Linked DNA regions of Homo sapiens. The protein of the gene in region 1 binds, or shares a complex with, the protein of each later gene. Each region holds a gene or a part of one and is shown in the gene's direction. Other genes may lie near its edges.

Region 1 (4,093 bases):
ATCAAGATTAATGGTGCCAACACCCATTGACCTAGCAATTCTACCTCTAGAAATTCTCCCTACATAAATACTTATACATGTAAACATGAAAATACAAGAATTTAGGCTTGGTGTGGTGACTCACGCCTGTAATCCCAGCACTTTGGGAAGGCAAGTCAGGAGGATCACTTGAGCCCAGGAGTTCCAGACCAGCATGGCCAACATAGTGAGACCTTGACTCTACAAAAAATTTTTTAAAAAATTAGCCGGGGGTGGCATGCATCTTTAGTCCTAACTACTGGGGAGGCTGAGGTGGGAGGATTGCGGGGTGGGAGGCTGCAGGGAGCTATGATTGCACCACTGCACTCCAGCCTGGGCGACAGAGCAAGACCCTGTCTCAAACAAATAAAAAAATTAAAGCATAACCTGTAGGAGATAGCTCAATGAATGCTGATGTTTAGAAGAAAGATTTGGGTTATCTCCGATTATTTTAGAAAGGAGATGCATTACAGAGATCAGGGAACAGTCTCTGAGAAGGATCCCCTGGGTTTTATGGCCATACCTATTGCTTTTAGCTGTATAACCTTGAGCAAGTTACTTACCTGAGCCTCAGTTTCTTTATCGGTAATCTGCATTATAGCTGTGTTGTGAAGGTTCAGTGGGATGGTGCCTGCAAAACCTCCCCCGCCTCGAACCTGACACATAATAGGCACTAAGCGTAGCCGTAATTATTATTTAATAAATATGTTGTTCTATGTGGTGATGGCAGATTAAGGGGCTACTTTGGTGATATAATCTGCCCTCCTGGGGTAGAGTTGAGGGCTTTGGAGTTGGGTGAATTCCTCTCTAGCACTCACTAGACTTCGAGCACATCATTCCCTAACCTCTATGGCCTCACTTTTCTCATCTGTAAAGTGGCCAGAATAAATTCCAAGTCTTGAGAGTTTGCTCTGAAACTTAAACGTATATTACTCATAAGAGTTTAATACACAATTATTTTATTTCCTGCCAATCTAATGGCGAAGACATGGAATAACCCATCAAACAGCCCAGTAACCCCAGGAAACCAGAGGGACGGAAACCAGGGCGATGGGCGAGTCAGTCATGGCCAGTGCGCCGTGTTTCGAAGGGGACGGCCATGGAGCGGTGGGTGGTCGCTCAGCTCCCCAATCGCTCTCCGACACCCGGCTGGGGAGACAGGACCTCCCTGGAGGCCGCAGCAGCTTGATTGTCACCCGGGCAACCCCACCTTCCGGTTCCCTCTACAACCCCTTGCCCCGCTTCCGGTTCCGGCGTCGTGCGTCATCGCTGGGCGACTGATTTCGAGTTTCCGGTCAGGTTAGGCCGGGGGGGTGCGGTCCTGGTCGGAAGGAGGTGGAGAGTCGGGGGTCACCAGGCCTATCCTTGGCGCCACAGTCGGCCACCGGGGCTCGCCGCCGTCATGGAGAGCGGAGGGCGGCCCTCGCTGTGCCAGTTCATCCTCCTGGGCACCACCTCTGTGGTCACCGCCGCCCTGTACTCCGTGTACCGGCAGAAGGCCCGGGTCTCCCAAGAGCTCAAGGTCAGTGCTGGAGCCGGCCTGGCCTCAGCCGGGTCATCTCTGTCCCAGGTGCTGGGGAGCCCATGATTCACCTTGGCCGCCCCACCGTCGGAAACTGTCCAAAAAAGGAAACAGCCTCTGAAGGGTGTCATCCAGCCAGTAGATGGAGGAGCGAGGGGCAGGATTCGGGCTCGGGATAACGGCTGCTCCGCTCCTTTTCTCCCAAGTCCCTCTTATGACTCAGAATGAATCTTGACTTCATTACTTTACTCGAAAAATATTTATTGAACACCTGCGATGCTCCAGGCAGTGAGTCGAACAGATGAAAGTCCATCCCCTCGTGGAGATACCATTTTAGTACGACTAGACAGCAAACATGTAAATCAGGCGGTGTAACAGATGGTGAGCAATGCTTTAGAGTAAGGTAGGGGAGAGAGGACATGGAATGCTGGAGAAAGGGGGATCTCCTATCTTAAATAAGGTGACATTTGAGCAGAGCCTAGGAGGAGATGAGGGGAGTCATGCAGATATCTAGCGGGAGATGGAAGGAACAGCAAGTGCAGACATCCATTTACTGAACCACTCCACTCCTTGCTTTACAGACGCTTCCTTTTTATATTACAACTATTTTTATAAATGGCGCTTTTTTCTGAACTGTGCTTTACGGTTTACACAACACATTTGCATTTATTTTTATTTTTTATTTTTTCGAGATGGAGTCTTGCTGTGTCGCCCAGGCTGGAGTGCAGTGGCGGGATCTGGGCTCACTGCAGCCCCTGCCTCCCGGGTTCAAGTGATTCTCCTGCTTCAGCCTCCCGAGTAGCTGGGATTACCACGCCCAGCTAACTTTTTTGTATTTTAGTAGACACAGGGTTTCACCATGTTGGCCAGGCTGGTCTCCAGCTCCTGACGTCGGGTGATCTCCCCGCCTCGGCTCTCCGAAGCGTTGGGATGTAAAGGCGTGAGCCACTGCGCCCAGCCACATTTTCATCTTGATTTTATTTTTTTCTTAACAATAATTTTTTTTCCTTTCTTTCCTCTCCTTTTCTTTTCTTTTTCTTTTTCTTTTTTTTTTTGAGACGGAGTCTCGCTCTGTTGCCCAGGCTGGAGTGCAATGGCACGATCTTGGCTCACTGCAACCTCTGCCTCCCGCGTTCAAGTGATTTTCCTGCCTCAGCCTCCGGAGTAGCTGGGATTACAGGTACCTGCCACCACGCCTGGCTAATTTTTGTATTTTTAGTAGAGATGGGGTTTTGCCATGTTGGCCAGGCTGGTCTCCAACTCCTGACTTCAGGTGATCCCTCTGTCTCAGCCTCCCAAAGTGCTGGGATTACAGGCGTGAGCCACTGCGCCTGGCCCACAATAATTTTTTGAAGTAAATAAAATGACAGTTACCACCACATTGCAAATCAGAAAATTGAGATTTGGAGGAAAGGCCATACAGCTAGTCAGCTTGAAACTTAAATTTAGGTCTTTTGATTCCAAGGGTAGGATTTTAATCTGATTGACATTGCTTTATTGTGACTATCTGACTGGTCCAGAGAGATGGACCTCTTTAGGTCAGAGACAGGGTCTTATTCATCCATTCTCTTTCCTCTAGCTTCTAACACAGTACTTGGCAAGTGGTAGATGCTCAGTAAATGTTTGTGGGTTCTTTTTGGCTGAAGTTTCACAATACAAGAGCTAAGGGCCTAACCTAATTTGATGTTTATATGAAAGATGGATTCCTAAACCTGACTAACTTAATTATCAGATTGTTTTCAGTAAGGGTTTAGAAACTAATGTGTGGGCCAGGCTACTCCAGCCTGGGTGACAAGAGCAGGACTCCATCTCAGAAAAAAAAGAAACCAATGTGTGAACTCCAGTCCCTGCCATGAAGGGAGTTTTGGAATCTGGAAAGAACCAAGTTATGAGGCAATTGGATTTGCTGTGCAGTGGCGTTATAGTGAGATTCCAGCTGCCCTGTATTTCTCCTGATTAAATAATCAAGTTAATCCTGAAGTGATTAGCTCTGTGTATCTGATACTTCACTTTCTGACTCCAAACCACTTTGGCCTCAAGTTGGCTGGAGGAGGGCTTCTTTGAAGCAGTGAACTCTTTAGGTCTCATCTTTGGGTGACCTTAAAACCTTTGCCAAACAGTTCCTAAATGAGGATGAAATAGCCCCTTCCTGGAAAAAAAGTTGGGACTGTTAATATTTTAGATTCTATTTTCTATTTCCTTCCTCTCTTTCTCCCTCCCTTCCTTCCTTTTCTTTCTCTTTGGCCTTCCTTCCTGTCCTTCATTTCTTTCTTCTTTCTTTTTTTCTTTTTCCTCTTCTTTTTTTTTTTTTTTTTTTTTTTTGAGACATGGTCTTACTCTGTTGCCCAGGCTGGAGTGCAGTGGCACAAACATAGCTCATTGCAGCCTCGAGCTCCCAGGCCCATGCCAGTCTCCTGCCTCAGCCTCCTAAGTAGCTAGGACTACAGGTGCACACCACCACCTCCAGCTAATTTTTTATTTTTCATAGAGATGGGGTCTTGCATGTTGCTCATGCTAGTTTTGCACTGCTGGCCTCAAGCAGCTATCCCACTT
Region 2 (4,022 bases), on another chromosome or scaffold:
AGTCTCGCTCTGTTGCCCAGGCTGGAGTGCAGTGGCACAATCTCGGCTCACTGCAAGCTCTGCCTCCTGGGTTCACGCCATTCTCCTGCCTCAGTCTCCCGAGTAGCTGGGACTACAGGCATGCACCCCCATGCCCAGCTACTTTTTGTATTTTCAGTAGAGACGGGGTTTCACCATGTTGGCCAAGCTGGTCTCAAACTCCTGACCTCCAGTGATCCACCCGCCTCGACCTCCCAAAGTGCTGGGATTACAGGCGTGAGCCACTGTGCCCCGCCTTTTGTATGGTTTTGTGTGAGGTCTTGGGAAAACCAGTTTTGTAAATACATTGATCCCGTAGAAGTTTATGTATTACTCTTCCATTATGATCTGTTTCATGTTTTGAGTTTCTCTGTAGACTGACAATACACTTTGAAAATGTCTGAGATTGGGAAGTTACCGAAGCATGATCTTAAAGAAAGTAGTTGTAACGCTGAACAGTACTGTATTTTAAAAAATTGCTTAGGCTGGGTGCGGTGGCTTATGCCTGTAATCCCCCAGTACTTTGGGAGGCTGAGGCGGGCCGACCACCTGAGGTCAGGAGTTCGAGACCAGCCTGCCCAATATGGTGAAACCCTGTCTCTACTAAAAATACAAAAATTAGCCAGGTGTGGTGGCACTCACCTGTAATCCCAGCTACTCAGGAGGCTGAGGCAGGAGAGTTGCTTGAACCTGGGAGGCAGAGGTTGCAGTGAGCCAAGATCTCGCCACTGCACTCCAGCCTTTGCAACAGCGAGACTCCATCTCAAAAAAAAAAAAATTGCTTAAAAATACTGTAGGCCGGGCTGGGCGCTGTGGCTCATGCCTGTAATCCCAGCACTTTGGGAGGCCAAGACAGGTGGATCACAAGGTCAGGAAATCGAGACCATCCTGGCTAACACGGTGAAACCCCATCTCTACTAAAAATACAAAAAATTAGTCAGTGTGGTGGCAGGTGCCTGTAGTCCCAGCTATTCGGGAGACTGAGGCAGGAGAATGGCGTGAACCGGGAGGCAGAGCTTGCAGTAAGTGGAGATCGCGCCGCTGCATTCTAGCCTGGGCGACAGAGCGAAACTCTGTCTAGAAAAAGAAAAAAATGAAAATAAAAAATACTGTAGGCCGGGCGCGGTGACTCACGCCTGTAATCCCAGCATTTTGGGATGCCGAGGTGAGTGGATCACGAGGTCAGGAGTTCAATACCAGCCTAGTCAAGATGGTGAAACCCTGTCTCTACTAAAAATATAAAAATTAGCCGGGCATGGTGGTGAGCACCTGTGATCCCAGTTACTGGGGAGGCTAAGGCAGAGAGTTGCTTGAACCCGGGAGGTGGAGGTTGTGGTGAGCTGAGATCGCACCACTGCAGTCCAGCTTGGGCAACAGAGCAAGACTCCGTCTCAAAAAAGAAAAAAAAATACTGTACTAGAGGTGTGGTACCATATATTAGATTAATATTAGAGGTAAGGACTGATTGAATTCCTATCAAAATGATGAATTAACAGGTAGTCCTGTGGAGTATTGGGAACTTTAATAAATGGTTGTCTGAATATGGCTATTTAAATTAGTTCTATCTTGGATAGTTCTATCTTGGATACCTTCTTACTCCAAAAGGTGAGCTTCTTCACATAAGTTCTGGGAATTTTTTTTTCCCCACTAAAAAAGTATTTTTTATTTCCTTTACAAAAGATCATTGAATTAAGGCACTTTCTTTGGCTCTACTAGATTGTTATTTAAATATAATTCAAACAGCCATCGAGGATAACTGTTAATAAATCTAGGTTTTCTCTGAAGTCTCCCAGTGTATATTACTGTACTGATGACTGACAAGGAAGAGGTTTTGACAAGGTCCAATTCTGTATATTTCTCTTAAAATATCCTAGGCAGTTCCCAGGATAGGAGTATCTGACTCATGCCTCATGCTACCAGGAACCTTTGCAGCCTCATCCCAGAAATGCAGAAACACACTTGTTTTGTCTGTAGAAATAAAGTTTTGATGGTTAGATTTCCAGGCAAACCTTCAAAATCATGTTAAACTATAATATAGGGAAATAAAGTAGTGTTTGTTCTTCTGTCTGCAGAGTCAAGTGAGATTTTGGGTAATAGAATCATAAAATGTTAGCACTGCAGCACATCTCAGGGCTGCTGTCTGGAAAGGCCGTGTGACCTACCAGGTAAGAGTAGGTCTGAATTGAGAACCTGGATTTCTGGACTGTCCAGTGTATTTTCTGGCAAGCCATGTGTTATCCTTACATAGCTGTTAGGTATATAAATCCAGAGGATGCAGCCTTTTTTCTTTTGTTCAAACAATTGGATATTTAAACTGTGTCCTGGAACCTGAAGATCTTCCTCAACTTCCCTTTATATGATTGGCAAGGTTGCTCATACTGCTTGAAACTGCAAATTTAGGCTTGACACAGTGGCTCATGCCTGTAATCCCAACACTGGGAGGCCAAGGTGGGAGGATTGCTTGTACCTAGGAGTTCAAGACCAGCTTGGTCTGTAATGGGAGACCCTGTCTCTACAAAAGCGAAACAAAGTGAAACAAAATTAGCTGGGCATGGTGATGTGTGCCTGTAGTCCTAGCTACTCAGGAGGCTGAGACAGGAGGATCACTTGAGCCTGGATGAAAGGTTAAGGCTACGGTGAGCTGTGATCATACCACTGCACTCCAGCCTGGGCAGCAGAGCCAGATTCTGTGTCAAAACAACAACAACAACAACAAAACAACTATTGCAAATTTGGTGTTCTATTCTCACCACCACCACCACCCCGCCTTTTTTTCCCCCGAAACGGAGTCTCTACCTCTGTCGCCCAGGCTGAAGTGCAGTTGTGCAATCTCGGCTCACCGCAACCTCTGCCTCCCAGGTTCAAGAGATTCTCCTGCCTCAGCCTCCCAAGTTGCTGGGACCACAGGTGCATGCCACCACGCCCGGCTAATTTTTGTTTTTTGTTTTTATTTGAGATGGAGTCTAGCTCTGACGCCCAGGCTGGAGTGCAGTTGTGTGATCTCGGCTCACTGCAACCTCTGCCTCCTGAGTTCAAGCAATTCTCCAGCTTCAGCCTCCAGAGTAGCTGAGACTACAGGCGCGTGCCATGATGCCCAGCTAATTTTTTGTATTTTTAGTAGAGATGGGGTCTCACTATGTTAGCCAGGATGGTCTCGATCTCCTGACCTCGTGATCCACCCACCTCGGCTGGTTTGGAACTCCTGACCTCAAGTGATCCACCTGCCTTGGCCTCCCAAAGTGTTGGGATTACAGGCATGAGCCACCACCCCCGGCTTTCTGCATATATCTTTCATCAGAGTCAAATGGATTTTGTTTTTTAAGTGAAAGCAAGTTTATTAGGAAAGTAAAGGAATAAAGAATGGCTACTCCCTAGGCAGAGCAGCCTCAAATGGGTTTTTAATCTCTAAAAAGACTAAAAACCACTGTCCTTCCACCTTAAACATTATTTTAATCTCAGCAGATGAACAGAGTACCTGTTCTGCAGAGAAAATATAAATCTTACGTGTGAGTTGTTAGGGATTTCCTTCAAGGTATTAAAACAACAGATCGGCTGGGCGCGGTGGCTCATGCCTGTAATCCCAGCACTTTGGGAGGCCGAGGCGGGTGGATCGTGAGGTCAGGAGATCGAGACCATCCTGGCCAACATGGTGAAACCCCATCTCTACTAAAAATACAAAAATTAGCCAGGCACAGTGGTGGGCACCTGTAATCCCAGCTACTTGGGAGGCTGAGGCAGGAGAATCACTTGAACCCAAGAGGCGGAGGTTGCAGTGTGCCGAGGTCGTGCCACTGTACTCTAGTCTGGGCGACAGAGCAAGACTCCCTCTCAAAAAAAAAAAAAAAAACAAACACAGATTTCAGCTATCCACTTTAGAGTACTCACTGTGCATCAGGAATTACTTGATCTTTTCAATAATCTTTCAATAATTCTGTTCTCCCCAGGTTAGATAAGGAAACAGTGGGAGAAATAAACTTGCCTAACATTATATGGTTATGGTAGGA

The links.
Region 2: the proteins of MUL1 (region 1) and UBE2D2 are in contact, whole or in part, in a crystal structure (PDB 6M2C), measured with the Homo sapiens proteins. Residues at the interface, in NP_078820.2 of Homo sapiens: Val303, Val304, Cys305, Leu306, Cys326, Ala329, Leu330, Pro331, Pro337, Ile338, Arg340; in NP_003330.1 of Homo sapiens: Met1, Arg5, Lys8, Glu9, Asp12, Phe62, Ser91, Gln92, Trp93, Ser94, Pro95, Ala96.

The regions. Positions count from the first base shown.
Region 1 is NC_000001.11:20,505,352-20,509,444, reverse strand, and holds the start of MUL1 (mitochondrial ubiquitin ligase activator of NFKB 1), read left to right. Parts: upstream 1-1,293; 5' UTR 1,294-1,420; coding exon 1,421-1,540; exon of another isoform or gene 1,541-1,918; coding exon of another isoform or gene 1,919-1,921; intron 1,922-4,093. UniProt on the Homo sapiens protein: Exhibits weak E3 ubiquitin-protein ligase activity. E3 ubiquitin ligases accept ubiquitin from an E2 ubiquitin-conjugating enzyme in the form of a thioester and then directly transfer the ubiquitin to targeted substrates.
Region 2 is NC_000005.10:139,567,559-139,571,580, forward strand, and holds part of UBE2D2 (ubiquitin-conjugating enzyme E2 D2), read left to right. Parts: intron 1-4,022.